2 linked regions of the Homo sapiens genome follow. The protein of the gene in region 2 binds, or shares a complex with, the protein of the main gene of each other region. Each region holds a gene or a part of one and is shown on either strand. Other genes may lie near its edges.

Evidence for each region.
Region 1: the proteins of NCOA5 (region 2) and ESR2 are in contact, whole or in part, in a crystal structure (PDB 4ZI1), measured with the Homo sapiens proteins. Residues at the interface, in NP_066018.1 of Homo sapiens: Ser344, Leu345, Ile346, Leu348, Leu349, Ala350, Asp351; in NP_001428.1 of Homo sapiens: Ile310, Lys314, Phe319, Leu324, Gln327, Val328, Leu331, Glu332, Leu490, Glu493, Met494.

Annotation. Positions count from the first base shown.
Region 1 is NC_000014.9:64,283,930-64,291,449, forward strand, and holds part of ESR2 (estrogen receptor beta), read right to left. Parts: intron 1-7,520.
Region 2 is NC_000020.11:46,086,503-46,094,070, forward strand, and holds the start of NCOA5 (nuclear receptor coactivator 5), read right to left. Parts: upstream 3,461-7,568; 5' UTR 3,315-3,460; intron 1-3,314. UniProt on the Homo sapiens protein: Nuclear receptor coregulator that can have both coactivator and corepressor functions.

The sequences.
Region 1 (7,520 bases), on a different chromosome or scaffold from region 2:
TTGTCTTTGTTTTTGAGACAAGGTCTCACTCTGTCACCCAGGCTGGAGTGCAGTGGCATGATCTCGGCTCACTGCAACCTCCTGCCTCCCAGGTTCTAGTGATTCTCCTGCCTCAGCCTCACGAGTAGCTGAGACTATGGGTGCGCACCACTGTGACTGGCTAATTTGTTGTATTTTTTAGTAGGGATGGGGTTTCACCACGTTGGCCAGGCTGGTCTCAAACTCCTGATCTCGAGTGATCCACCTGCCTCGGTCTCCCAAAGTGCTGGGATTACAGGCATAAGTCACCATGCCTGGCCTACGTATCAGTTTTGAATGTGCCCTTCAATTTATGCTCTAAAAAACAGAATTTTTGTATGTAAAGTGAGCACAAGGCTGGGGGTGCTGGCTGATTACAGGCAAATCTTTTTTTTTGAGATGGAGTTTCACTCTTGTTGCCTAGGCTGGAGTGCAATGGCGCCATATCAGCTCACTGCAATCTCTGCCTCCCAGGTTCAAGCAATTATCATGTCTCAGCCTCCTGAGTAGCTGGGATTACAGGCATACACCACCACACTAATTTTTGTATTTTTAGTAGAGACAGGGTTTCACCGTGTTGGCCAGGCTGGTCTCGAACTCCTGACCTCAAGTGATCTGCCTGTTTCGGCCTCCCAAAGTGCTGGGATTACAGGCATGAGCTACCATGCCCGGCCACAGTAATAGACAATTAATACAATATCTGAGGGGTAATTCATCACTTTCTTTCCCAAAACCACTCATTTCCTATTTGTGTTAATAGAAAAAGCCCATCATAGTTACCTTTGACTTCTCCCCTTGACTCAGTTAACTTTACTCATCAAGGCACATTGGCTTTTTTTCCCAATGCCTTTTTTCCACTGTCTTTTGCTGCCATCTTGAAGTAAGCTCTCATTATCGCATTACTTTTTTTTTTTTTTTTTGAGACGGAGTCTCGCACTGTCACCCAGGCTGGAGTGCAGTGGCGCAATCTCGGCTCACTGCAACCTCCACCTTCCAGGTTCAAGCGATTCTTCTGCCTCAGCATCCCGAGTAGCTGGGATTATAGGCGCCCGCCACCACGCCCAGCTAACTTTTTGTATTTTTAGTAGAGACGGCGTTTCACCATGTTGGCCAGGCTCGTCTTGAAATCCTGACCTTGTGATTTGCCCGCCTCGGCCTCCCAAAGTGCTGGGATTACAGGCGTGAGCCACTGTGCCCGGCCAGCTCTCATTACTTCTTATCAGTGCATCTGTAACAGGCTTCTTACTGCTCCTCGTCCCCAGTTAGCTTCTCCTCCAGATCCATAGAGTTGTCAGATTCATGTTCTTAAAACCCAGCTCTCTGCTTCCCACCAAACTCTAAGTCACATTCTTCGAGCATTCAAGGGATGCCACTATGTTGCCTCAACCCATCATTCCACACGAATCTCCTGCTGTTTTCTTACAGAAAACCTGCTATGTCCATTAAGAAACATGCAAACTGCATTGTGAGGTGGTTGGCTTGTTATACCTTCACACTTTTTTTGCTCATAGCACCCCTTTAATCACTTACATACAAACCTAATCCTGCTTATCAGAACTACCTTGAACCCTTCTTCAAAATGATAGAGGTGCATAGGAGAGTAAGAAGTAAAGTCAATGCCTGTAATCTCAGCACTTTGGGAGGCCGAGGTGGGTGGATCACATGAGGTCAAGAGTTTGAGGCCAGCCTGGCCAAGATGGTGAAACACCATCTTCACTAAAAATACAAAAGTTAGCCAGGCGTGGTGGTGCATGCCTGTAGTCCCAGCTACTCGAGAGGCTAAGACATGAGAATCACTGAATCTGGGAGGCGGAGGCTGCATTAAGCTGAGATCGTGCCACTGCACTCCAGCCCAGGTGACAGAGTGAGACTCTGTCTCAAAAAAAAAAAAAAAAGAAAAAGAAAAAGAAAAAAAAAAGGAAATTCAGATTTTTAGCTCCTTGAAAGCAAGTACCATTTCTTACTCACCTTGCACTGAAACTCAATCAATATTTGTCATAAGGAAGTGAGGAAATGTGTTCAAAATGTAATATTTCACCAAGTCAAGGACATTAAAGATGGGGGGTGCTGCAGTAGGCATGGTAGTATGCTGAGAAAAGGGACTTCAAGGAGTTCTGGGACATACACCCTGCCTTCAGGGAGCTAATGTACCAGGAAGAGGCAGGACAGACCAGGTAAAATGATAAGGAACTAACACCAAAGTGGTACCACTTCCAACCAACATTGTAAATCAAAAATTTGGACCAAGGAGAGGAGAGAGAATGGTAGCTGGAGAAGGATATAGGATCAAGGAAGGTTTGGTGTTTGGGTTTTATTTTAATACTATATGTAATTAATAATGAGTATGGAATTTTATATTTCATTTTTTTTTTACATGGAGTTTCGCTGTGTCACCCAGGCTGGAGTGCAGTGGTACAATCTTGGCTCACTGCAACCTCCGCCTCTTGACTTCAAGTGCTTCTCCTGCCTCAGCCTCCCTAGTAGCTGGGATTACAGGTGCCTACCACCATGCCCAGCTAATTTTTTGTACTTTTAGTAGAGATGGGGTTTCACCATGTTGACCAGCCTGGTCTTGAACTTCCGACCTCAAATGATCCACCCGCCTTGGCCTCCCAAAGTGCTGGGATTACAAGCGAGAGCCACCAGCCAGAATTTTGTATTTTAATTACTTAGATTCCTGATCAACATAAACAATTCCTTATTCTTAACAGAAAATATGCAGGATAAAACATATAGTGATAACTATTGCCAAAACTAGCAGTTTCTAAAGTGGTTTTTTGTTTTGAAATGAAATCTCACTCTGTCACCCAGGCTGGAGAGTGCAGTGGTGTGATCTCGGCTCATTGCAACCTCCACCTCCAGGGTTTGAGGCGATTCCCCTGCCTCAGCCTCACAATTAGCTGGGATTATAAGCATGCACAATTAGGCCAGGCTAATTTTTGTATTTTTAGTAGAGATGGGGTTTCACCATGTTGGCCAGGCTGGTCTTGAACTCCTGACCTCAAGTGATCTGCCCGCCTTAGCCTCCCAAAGTGCTGGGATTACAGGTGTGAGTCACCGTGCCTGGCCTGAAGTTGTTTTTTTTTTTTTCTTTTTTAATTGTGTTAAAATACATGTAACATAAAACTTACCATCTTAGCCATTTCTAAGTATAAAGTTCAGTAGTGTTAAGGATATTCACATTATTGTGCAACCAATCTCTAGAACTCATTTCATCTTGCAAAACTAAAACTCTCTGTTAAACAAATTCCCCACTCCTCCCTTCCCCCAGCCCCTGGCAACCACCAGCCTACATTCTGTCTCTATGGATGTGATGACTCTGGGTACCCAGCAGTGGTGAAACCAACTATCAGACCCCACCAACAAATGACAAATGCCAGGATACACCTAGCCAATCAATCAGGTGCATGGCAACTTTGCTTAGAAAATACAGATCTCACATCTCAACATATCACCAATCAACTTCTGTAGAATTTCCACATATCCCCAGAAGGATGATAATTAAAGTTAGAGAACTGACTTCTGGAGAGTCATTAAAAGGCTAGGTGCTTTTTGTTTGGATATATTTCAGATATATCAGATTCACATGATTCACAGATTAACTCTTTGTCAGTGGCATCTTGAATAGTTAGGTACTTGGTAGCCAATGCAAAGAGTTTTTCTTCCTAAGCAGAGCCATAATAAGGGGAAGAAATGATGAACTTACACCATTGTAATAGTTCTCTGAGACAGGAGAACAGGTAGCAAAAAAAGACCTCCTTTCTACCAGAGGTCTGTAAAAATAAGTCAACAAACCCATTCTGGTTGAGAAGCCCTCCTCTAAAACAGAGATATAAACTGGTCAAAGGAAAGACTCCCCAAAAGATTTAATTTCTTTAACATTGTAGGGCAGAGTTTTCCCAACACATCGATTGAATGTTCAAACATGGCCTCAGTACAATGTTCTGGTACAACAGGAAAAAATTGTCTCTAAAGAGTTTAATTGTTGGGCCTGGCATGGAATTTCACCTGGCCAACCAAAGAACCAGTACCCAGACATCCTGATTCTAAGAATTATTCATTTATTTGCATGTCAATTTTCTTTAGTCACCATAACCTAAAATAGTTGGTCCATATCCTGGGTGGTGAACAGGCTTTGTTTTCTGTCCAGAGACCTCTCTCTCTCTCCCAGCACACACCCCTGTATTTGGCCCTCTCAGGTCACATCTGAATTCAGCCAGAAAGCTTTTTGTACACATGGGATCGTGCATGGTGTTCTAATGTACTGGCTGGGAAACATACTATGGCTTTTGAATTAAAAGAAAAAAGTAGTATTTAAAATTCCCAATTTTGACAATGATTCATGGACAAGAAAAAGTTTGGCCCTAGAAATGGCAGAAAAACACTCCAAAAAGACTACACTTTTTTTTTTTTTTTTTTGAGATGGAGTCTTGCTCTGTTGCCCAGGCTGGAGTGCAGTGGTGCAATCTTGGCTCACTGCAAGCTCCACCTCCCGGGTTCAGCCATTCTCCTGCCTCAGCCTCTCAAGTAGCTGGGACTACAGGTGCCCGCCACCATGCCCAGCTAATTTTTTCTATTTTTTAGTAGAGACGGGGTTTCACCATGTTAGCCAGGATGGTCTTGATCTCTTGACCTCGTGACCCGCCCGCCTTGGGCTCCCAAAGTGCTGGGATTACAGGCATGAGCCACCGTGCCAGCCAAGACTAGACTGGTTTTTATCAAAGCACCTGTAAATCTAGTTAATAAGAAATCAGTCACCCGGGCGCGGGTGGCTCATGCCTGTAATCCCAGCACTTTGAGAGGCCAAGGTGGGCAGATCACCTGAAATCAGGAGTTCGGGACCAGCCTGGCCAACATGGAGAAACCCAGTCTCTACTAAAAATACAAAATTAGCCGGGTGTGGCAGCGCTTGCCTGTAAACCCAGCTACTCAGAAGGCTGAGGCAGGAGAATCGCTTGAACCCAGGAGGTGGAGGTTGCGGTGAGCCGAGATCACGCCACTGCACTCCAACCTAGGTGACAAGAGCAAAACTCTGTCTCAAAAAAAAAAAAAAAAAAAAGGTCAGCCACCATCAAGCCTGTTCTTATGTATATTCTATCAATGGATAGAGCAGAACATTCATTCTAGCCCCAGCTCTGCCTGAAAGCCAGGCAATCTTAGACAAATCCACAAACTCCCTGAGCTGCCACATCTTCTTCAGTAGAATCAGGTACCTATTTGGTGCTGTACCTTTTCACGGTGCTCTGAGGGTGAAATGAGATGATGTCTGTGAAAGGATTCTGAGGCCGGGCGCAGTGGCTCACGCCTGTAACCCCAGCACTTTGGGAGGCCAAGGTGGGCAGATCACCTGAGGTCGGGAGTTTGAGACCAGCCTAACCAACATGGAGAAACCCCGTCTCTACTAAAAATACAAAATTAGCCGGGCATGGTGGCACATGCCTGTAATCCCAGCTACTCGGGAGGATGAGGCAGGACAATCGCTTGAACCTGGGAGGTGGAGGTTGCAGTGAGCTGAGATTGTGCCATTACACTCCAGCCTGGGCAACAAGAGCAAAACTTCATTTCAAAAAAAATAAAGAAAAAGAAAAAGAAAAAAAAAAAGAAAGCATTCTGTAAGGTATTATTACACATCCAAGAAGATGAAGCCAGTCTATTGGTATATCACTGGATACACATTTAGTGTTGGTTGGAATTTCCAGACAAGTTACAATGTCTTTATGGCCACCCTGAAGATTTTTGCCTCCTAATTTTACTTTTTGACTTCTGTCCACAGAAATCCATCACCCCTAGTCCAGATAGCTGGGCTGCTGGTAGCCTGCCAACACTGTGTGTGTGGACAAAATGCCACATATTCCTGATGCCATATTCTCAAGCTTGCAGACTAGGAGGATAAGTCTAGGAGGATAAGAATAGAGGATAAGTCCTCATCCCTATTCTTCTTCCACCTGCCCATCACACTTTCCCAAGCATTCAGTTCAAATGCTCCACATTTGTGTGTCCTGCAGAAGTAAAAAATTCACGCTCACAAAGCAGCAACTAGAAGGAATTTCATGGAAAAGATTTAAAAAGATTTCTTAAGCAACAAGCATCCTTGATGTGCATAAGTAGCTGTTTGACAATTATTAGCTTTTTTGGGGGGTGGGGGTTATACTCTAGCTCTGTAACTCAGGCTAGAGTGTAGTGGCAAGATCATGGCCTACTGCAGCCTTGATCTCCTGGGCTCAAGGGATCCTCCAAACTCAGCCCCCCAAGTAGCTGGGACTAAAGGCATGCACCATCATGCCCAGCTGATTTTTAAATTTTTGTAGAGATAGGGTCTCACTGTGTTGCCCAGATTGATCTTGAACTCCTTGCCTCAAGCAATCCTCCCACCTCGGCCTCCCAAAGTGCTGTGATCACAGGCATGAACCACCACACCTGGCCAATTATTATCTTTAAATGTATTCTTATTTATTTATTTATTTATTTATTTAGAGATAGAGTTTTGCTTTGTTGCCCAGGCTGGAATGCAGTGGCATGATCGCGGCTCACTGTAAACTCGGCCTCCCAGGTTCAAGCAATTCTCATGCCTCAGCCTCCTGAGTAGCTGGGACTACAGGCTTGAGCCACCATGGCCAGCTAATTTTTTGTATTCTTAACAGAGACAAGGTTTCATTATTTGGCCAGGCTGGTCTTGAACTCCTGCCCTCAAGTGATCCAGCCACCTAGGCCTCCCAAAGTGCTGAGATTACAGGCGTGAGCCACCACACCCAGCCTTTTTAAATATATTCTTTCAAAACAAAATATTAAGGCCCTCAATTAATTTAATATTAGGAAGATAAAACACTCCAAAATCACCAGAGAACTCATCATTAATAACTGATTTGCATGTAATTCTTAAGAACATGTACATAAGGAAACCCTGTTTCCTTCTAAAATGAGGAAAAGCTAATTCTCCTAGTAACCAATTGGCGCTTATTTAGTTGGATAGGAAAGAGTTTCAAGGGTTTGAATAGGGTAGGAGGACCAAGCCTCGAAGGCAGGGGTGGGAGAGAGTTCATCAGTCTTCTCAAGTGTCTTCTCTCTCAACAGCAAGTTTCTGCTCTTCCCTAACACCAACAACAGCCACAGACCATGCTCTGTAGGAACTGGACCAAATTCAAATATTCATTTGGGACAGGGTCAGAGAGAATTCCGAGTGAAGGGATTCAAGATGACACAGCCAATCCAGAAGTTAGGCTGAATGCACTCAACTCCCCTTCCAGGCCTGGGTTTGACAGTAGAACACACAACAATTTACTAACAAAATGCTGCAGTCTGGCTTTGAGGAAACATATACAAGTCCAGCAATCTATCTTTCTAGGTCACCCTAACTCTCCTGCCCTCTCTCAAGTACACCCACACAAAGATTCTCCACTAAAAGCCCTTCATTTTCAAGACCTGTCATAATTCCAGCTAGGAAGGCCAACTATCCAGTTTGCTAGCTCCTCATAAACTTGCCACTCTGCATATCCTAGTTACTA
Region 2 (7,568 bases):
GTACTGCTGCTTGAGACAGTGGCTTTACCCTGATCCTGTCATTAATGACTCTCATTAATGAGAGTAACATAAAGGATAATTCTGTTAGTCATTGCTCTTTTAACTTTTTGACAGTTTAACTCTGCTTAAGCAGAATGGTCTAAACAAATATATGTGCTATTCACAGGACAACTATTTTTGCACAAAAAAGCTGATATTGAGCTTTAAAAGCAGCTGTCTTAAAGATATGCAGTAATCATTAATAAACCACAAGGTACAGAGAGGAAATACAGCGTAGTAGAAAGAGTAGTCAGTTCTGAGGAACACTATTACTTCAAAATATTCATGAGAGGATAGCAGGAGAAAGGCATCATGATAACTTCCTCTCTCAGATATTGACATTGCACATATTTAGCACATAAATGCCTCTGAGAAGTTTTGGAGTAAGGACACCACTATATCTCAACATTTCCCAATTTTGCTTGACCCTGAAATCAATTATCTCCAATGATGTCTTGAATATGTTCTACTAATTATGTGATCTGGGGCAAGAAATCTAACCTCTTTGAGTCATCATTTCCCTATAAATAAAAAAGATCAAACTAGTTTATCAGTCTCATAAGATGACGGGCAGGAGCAATGATTTAGTATTTACCATATGCACTACTGGCTGTATGTTATTATCATTACTACACTAAGAGTAACAGTGACTTCAGGAATAGACGTTTCATTCTTCACGTGGGGAGTCAAAAACAAGAGAACAACCTAAACTGAAGGGAAGAAAAAGTTTAATATATTTCTTGTGAAGATTTTCCATTCTTAAAAGCACAACTAAATTTTATTAATCCTCACAGTAGTAAAACATTACACAAAGGCACTGCCATCTGCAGGTCATAAACATGGACTGCTTGCAATGATTATTTAAAATGAAGTTTCAAACCAATAAATCTTTTCTCATCAGACTACGAAAGTCTTTCCAAAAATTGTTTATTCTGGTTGGACGCGGTGGCTCATGCCTGTAATCCCAGCACTTTCGGAGGCAGAGGCGGGCAGATCACCTGAGGTTGGGAGTTCGAGACTAGCCTGACCAACATGGAGAAACCCCGTCTCCACTAAAAATATACAAAATTAGCCGGGCGTGGTGGCGCACGCCTGTAATCCCAGCTACTTAGGAGACTGAGGCAGGAGAATTGCTTGAACCCGGGGGCCAAGATCGCACCACTGCACTCCAGCCTGGGCAACAAGAGTGAAGCTCTGTCTCAGAAAAAACAAAAACAAAACCAAAACAAACAAGTTGTTTTTTCTTAGCTCTCAAGCACTGGTAGATGAGTTTCCATTTGCTGAAGTTCTGAAACGGACGCCGGGCTTAAATCAAATTCTCAGAAATGTGAAGAAAATGACCTTAGCCTTACGTAAATTCTACATTGTGATCATACCAAGGTAACCCCAAAGAAACATGTTTTTAACAGGGGGAGAGATACATACACACACACACATATATATACATATACATATATATATATTTTTTTACACAGCCTTTGAGGGGAGGGGAAGAAAACTTGAATAAGCCTGAACTGACTTATGGGACTTTCCTGTCAATGATTTAAATTAAATCTGCTCTTACATTCACATAAACAGATCTTATGAACACACTATTAACTTACAAGTAAGTTAATCTGTCAATGCCTCCTTTAAACTTGTGGTGTTCACAGGTATGCAACATTGAGCAAACTGAATCTAGAAAAACTCCTTCCAATGAGCCTTGCAATATGGATTCGCTGGGACATTCTACAAGGAAAATCAGTGTTTCTAAGTTTTAGGTTAAGAGAAGTGTCAGAGGTTTCAAAGGCAATCTGAAGAGTGACAGATGAGCTCAAAGAAAGGCAAAGAAATCACAATAAAGGAAGAAATGGATGTTAACAAATAGCCAAGTGATTTCTAATATCCACAATGCAAAGCATGGGCTTTACTGGTTGCAAAAAGTAGACACAAAGTTAGTTTTCACACCCAGACTGACTCATAGAGAAAACATTAAATTAAGAGTTGTCAAAACTCACAAAAGCTTCCCCAGCATTTGTAGAAACATCTTTTTATGAGCCAACAGGGGGCTACGACATCACAACGCTGTAAGAAAATTCAGGCACACCGGGTGCACCTGAGTGAACACAGTTCTTGCAGTTCCCTGGGACTAACACTTTTAAGTCAACAAAGAGAACAGTTTACAAGAAAGCTGTTACATTATCCCTGAAGAGCCCAGGGCATTCATAGAATCTGCTTTGCCTCAGGAAAAATTCTGTGCACAGAGTGCAAGCCAGAAGAACCACAATTAATCAGCTACTCCTCGGGCAGCGTTTCCCAAAGTGTGGAACGCAGAATAATTTCAGGAGGAACAAGGACGCACTGTTTATTTCAACAGACAGATATTTATTTTTTTTATAAGCATTAGAAAAATAACTGGCTTTCCAGTACCCGGTTTGTGATTGAAGTTGCCGCCTTAAATATATTTAAGGAGAAAAAAAGAGTCAGTTTGAATTTTTTAAAAAATGTAACATTTGGTAAATAGCAGTACAGATGGTCCACGGACATAAAGGTGCAACGCGAGACTGAAACGTGTGCAACGCCGTCCTAAGAGAAGCCCCTCGCCCGCTGGCGGGGAGCGGACAGTGCCCCGCGCCGGGAGCTTGGAAAGCCGGCCGGATCGGACGCTGGCGCTGAGCTACGTGGTAAACCCGGGAACAGTTCCTCTCCCCGTTCTCTGGGCCCGAGGTCCGCGCCTACAAAACGCGTGGGGTGTCACACCACAAGGAGACACCCCGAGAATGCGGTCAGGGGCCGCGAGACGGTGGCGGGGGACAGCGCTCAGTACACCGCTCGGCGCTGCACGCCTGGAGAACGCCCGGTGCCACGGGACGCCTTGGGCCCGGTTCGAATCCCGACTGCGCCACTGACTCGCTGAGGACCCGCGGGCGAGCGACTCCACCGTTTCGACAGGGGGTGCGGGATGTGCGGCTCAACCAGAGAAGCCTTGAGGACTCCTAGTGACCGACCGTTCGTGCACAGACAGGCGGCTGCGATGCGACGCCGCCGACCTGCGTCCACCACAGAGAACCGTAGGCCGCCTCGGCCGGCCGGGCCTGGGCCTGACGGGAGCCGGAGGCGGCCGCGCCCCGCACCGGGCATGCGCAGCACCGCGCGCACCCGGAGAGGAGCCGAGACCGTGGCCGCGCGTCGAGTGGGCCTTCCCGCCTCAGCCTCCCCGTCCGGCCAGGCCCCCCACAACGGCCTGCCCGTCAGCCCCACGCCTCGGCTGACGGCCAGCGCTTCCCGGCACTCACCGCTACCAGCGCGGCGGGCTCCCGGCCGCTCCTTCGCCTCAGGCCCGCCGCTGCCGCCTCCGCGTCGGCCCACCTGCCCGCCGTAGGACAAAGGCGCCACCAACCGACCGGCGCGGGCACGAGGCAATGGCGGCCGGGCGGAGAGTGGAGATGGGGGCAGAGGGCGCGCACGTAGCGGCAGGCGCGGCACTGTCGCAAGACCGCGCGTGTTTACGGCAGGGCTGAGTTGGGGCGTCGATCTCCTTGGCAATGAGGGCCCGGGAAGTGGCTCTCGGGCGGGAGTTGAGAACGCAGGGAGTTGCCTAGCAACAGCGTCCTAGGCTGAGGATGGGCCCCACGGTGGTCGCCTCAGCCCCCGCCCCAGAGTACTTTTTTTCTGTTTTCAGAGCACATTCCCTCCTCCCTAACTGTGGGAACAGAACATTCAAATCCCCAAATACCTTGATTTAGTCTTGCATAAAACTGAAAGCAAAAACCCCAAATCCCTATACACGTGTGTATTGGAGAATATATATAGTCCTGTAACCTCCGGACCACAAGGAACAAAGAGAGCAGAAAGGTGGAGAAAATGTTGTATTTAAATTTACATTTAAATAGGCTCTGTACTCTATTAGTTTCACTGACAAGCGGCAAAAGGTTTCTGGAGATATAGTCACAGGTTCTTCTTGAGTTATTTATTCTTGGAATATTCGTTCAACGTCAAAAATTTCCCGGAATGTAACTGTTGACCGTGAAGCCTGTAAAATGTTGTACTGTTCATTTCATGTATAGAATACATTTGTCACAGGGAATGGGATTTGCTCACACAATAGTAAATGCACTCTATTAATCACAGCCATAGCTATATTAATCAGGTACTCTTTTATTAGTGTTGGAAACGCCTCAGACTCCATGGGGTCTAGTTCTTCTCCTTGCGAATATTGCCTACTAAGAAAAAATGGTGCCTGCGGAATTTAAACACTACAAGAAGCCAGATTTCTTTGACATCTACCCCTATGCTCACTCCACTCATTTATTCACTGAATGTTTATTACATACCTACTATGTAGCCCTATACTTATTATATGCCTGCTTGTTAGGCGCTGTTATGAGCAAATGCAGACCCTTTTCTGCTATCTTTGAGATTACAGTCTGGTGAAAGCATTAGACGAATAATCACACTTGAGTGTGTAATTGCAAACTGAGATAAACGCTGTGATGGAAAGAAATAGGGATTCTCAATGGTTGTAACTAGAACTTTAGTTTACTCACAGGCAAAGTGGGTTATTCCAATTCCCACTTTATAAGACTGTATGAAATTAGAAATGAAGACATAAAGTCTGTCAAATAATGGATACCCAACAAATGTTCATTCTTATTCCTTTCCCTCCAATATAGATCCTAATACTATGAAAATTTAAGAAGAATCATATTAATTAGATGATTAAGATAACCAAGCTTAGGGAAAAATGTTGGTTTAGAGGTGAGTGGCAGTACCTCAAGTGGGTAGTGGACTTTAGCCAAAAGATGTATTCAGTGACTTGTGTATTAAGTGTTTAATGAGTGTTTTTTATGCACTTGATTTTGTGGAGAGTAGAGAGTAAGGTAGACAAAATCCTTGTGCTTAGGGAGCTCATGGCCTATTAGGGAATATGAGCAATAAACAAACGATAATATATAGTGTTTGATGAGTATTTTTGATAGAGGAGCAAGTTAATTTTATGAAGAAAGATTCTTGTAGGGAGGCAGGTGCTCAGGACTTGGTGACTTCTTATTTAGATGTTTGCTTTACATAATAGGTAACATCTATTGTGTGCCTACCATGTGCTGAATCCTTTACACATATCATCTCATTTAATCCTCACAACCCTATTGAGAGGTGACAGCGTGCTGGCAGCCCTCACAGCCCTTGCTCACTCTCGGTGCCTCCTCGGCCTCGGCGCCCATTCTGGCCGCGCTTGAAGAGCCCTTCAGCCCGCCGCTGCACCATGGAAGTCCTTCTCTGGGCTGGCCGAGGCCGGAGCCGGCTCCCTCCGCTTTCGGGGAGGTGTGGAGGGAGAGGCACGGGCGGGAACCGGGGCTGCGCGCGGCGCTTGCGGGCCAGCTAGAGTTCCAGGTGGGCGTGGGCCTGGCGGGCCCCACACTCGGAGCGGCCGGCCCGCCCTGCTGGCCCCAGGCGTGAGAGACTTAGCACCCAGGCCAGCAGCTGTGGAGGGTGCGCCGGATCCCCCAGCAGTGCTGGCCCACCGGCGCTGCACTCGATTTCTCACCGGGCCTTAGCTGCCTCCCCGTGGGGCAGGGCTCGGGACCTGCAGCCAGCCATGCCCGAGTCTCTCCGCCCCACCAACCCTCCTCCCTCGGGCTCCTGCGCGGCCTGAGCCTTCCTGACGAGCGCAGCCCCCTGCTCCAAGGTGCCTGGTCCCATCGACCGCCCAAGGGCTGAGGAGTGCCGGTGCACGGTGCGGGACTGGCGGGCAGCTCCACCTGCGGCCCAGTGGAAGATCCACTGAGTGAGGCCAGCTGGGCTCCTGAGTCTAGTGGGGACTTGGAGAACCTTCGTGTCTAGCTAAGGGATTGTGGGTGCACCAATCAGCACTCTGTGTCTAGCTCAAGGTTTGTGAACACACCAATCAGCACCCTGTGTCTAGCTCAGGGTTTGTGGATGCACCAATCCACACTCTGTATCTAGTGGGGACTTGGAGAATCTTTATGTCTAGCTAAGGGATTGTGAATGCACCAATTGGCACTCTGTATCTAGCTCAAGGTTTGTAAATGCACCAATCAGCACTCTGTCTAGCTCAGGGTTTGTAAATACACCAATGGACACTCTGTATCCAGCTAATCTAGTGGGGACGTGGAGAACTTTTGTGTCCAGCTCAGGGATTGTAAACGCCCCAATCAGCACCCTGTCAAAACGGACCAATCAGCTGTCTGTAAAACAGACCAATCGGCTCTCTGTAAAATGGACCAATCAGCAGGATGTGGGTGGGGCCAGATAAGCGAATAAAAGCAGGCTGCCTGAACCAGCAGTGGCATCCCGCTCGGGTTGCCTTCCACACTGTGGGAGTTGTGTTGTTCTGCTCTTTGCTATCAATCTTGCTACTGCTTTTTGGGTCCACACTGCTTTTATGAGCTGCAACACTCACTGGGAAGGTCTGCAGGTTCACTCCTGAAGTCATTGAAACCACGAACCCACTGGGAGAAACAAATAACTCCAGACGTGCCACCTTAAGAGCTGTAACACTCACCTGGAAGGCCTGTAGCTTCACTCCTGAGCCAGCGAGCCCACGAACCCCCCAGAAGGAAAAAACTCCGAACACATGCGAACATCAGAAGGAACAAACTCCGGACACGACGTCTTTAAGAACTGTAACACTCACCATGAGGGTCTGCGGCTTCATTCTTGAAGTCAGTGAGACCAAGAACCCACCAATTCTGGACACACTGTAATATGTGTACTATATTCCTATTTTACAAATGAGACAATTGAGGCCAGTTAATTTGCTTGTCCCACAGAGATTATGTGGCATGGCCAGACTCACTGAACCTGTGCGGCCTGATGCCCAAAATGCTATTGTAACCACGAGTGATACTGTCTTCTGGGATAAGAGGTTCCCTTCCAAATCAGGGGGTACCTGATTGGTGTAAAAGCCTGTAACCCTTCAGAGGTGAGCACCAAAGTTTGACCAGGAGATAAATTGAAAATCTGCTACAGTGGAGGCCATCTGATTTCTGTCAGATAGATCTTTAAGCTCACTGGCTGTTAAAATTTGGTGTACAGTGGGTTACCCCTTACTGTAAGGGAAGAAAGGTATAGTTTAAAGTGTGGCCAGTACTAAAGAACGATGTGTGTTTCCTAGAACATATGAGTAGGCCTTGTGGTTTACAGGACAGCCAAGACAGGGCAATGAGCAATTCCACTCAAACAGCAAACTGGAGGGGGCAGCATTTGGTGCTCAGCAAATACCTGTTGAATGAAGAAAAAAAAAGAAGAAAGAGTAAATTCAATACCATAGTCAATAGTGGAGGAATTTTTTTGAGATATCAATTTGGTTTTATTTTAATCTGGTATTTTTCTTAGTATTTCAGACTGCTTTATAGGATGAAGCCAGATACGTTTTGGGTAATGAAGTGGTGATTAAAAAGTGTCTAAGCAATGGGCTCAGGAATATCCCAGGAGAGAGAACCAGAGGGTCTATGATAAAGAAAACATGTAGTTTTTTTTTTTTTTTTTTTTAAGGACAAGATTACTGCAGAGAATCAGAAAGTAGGATC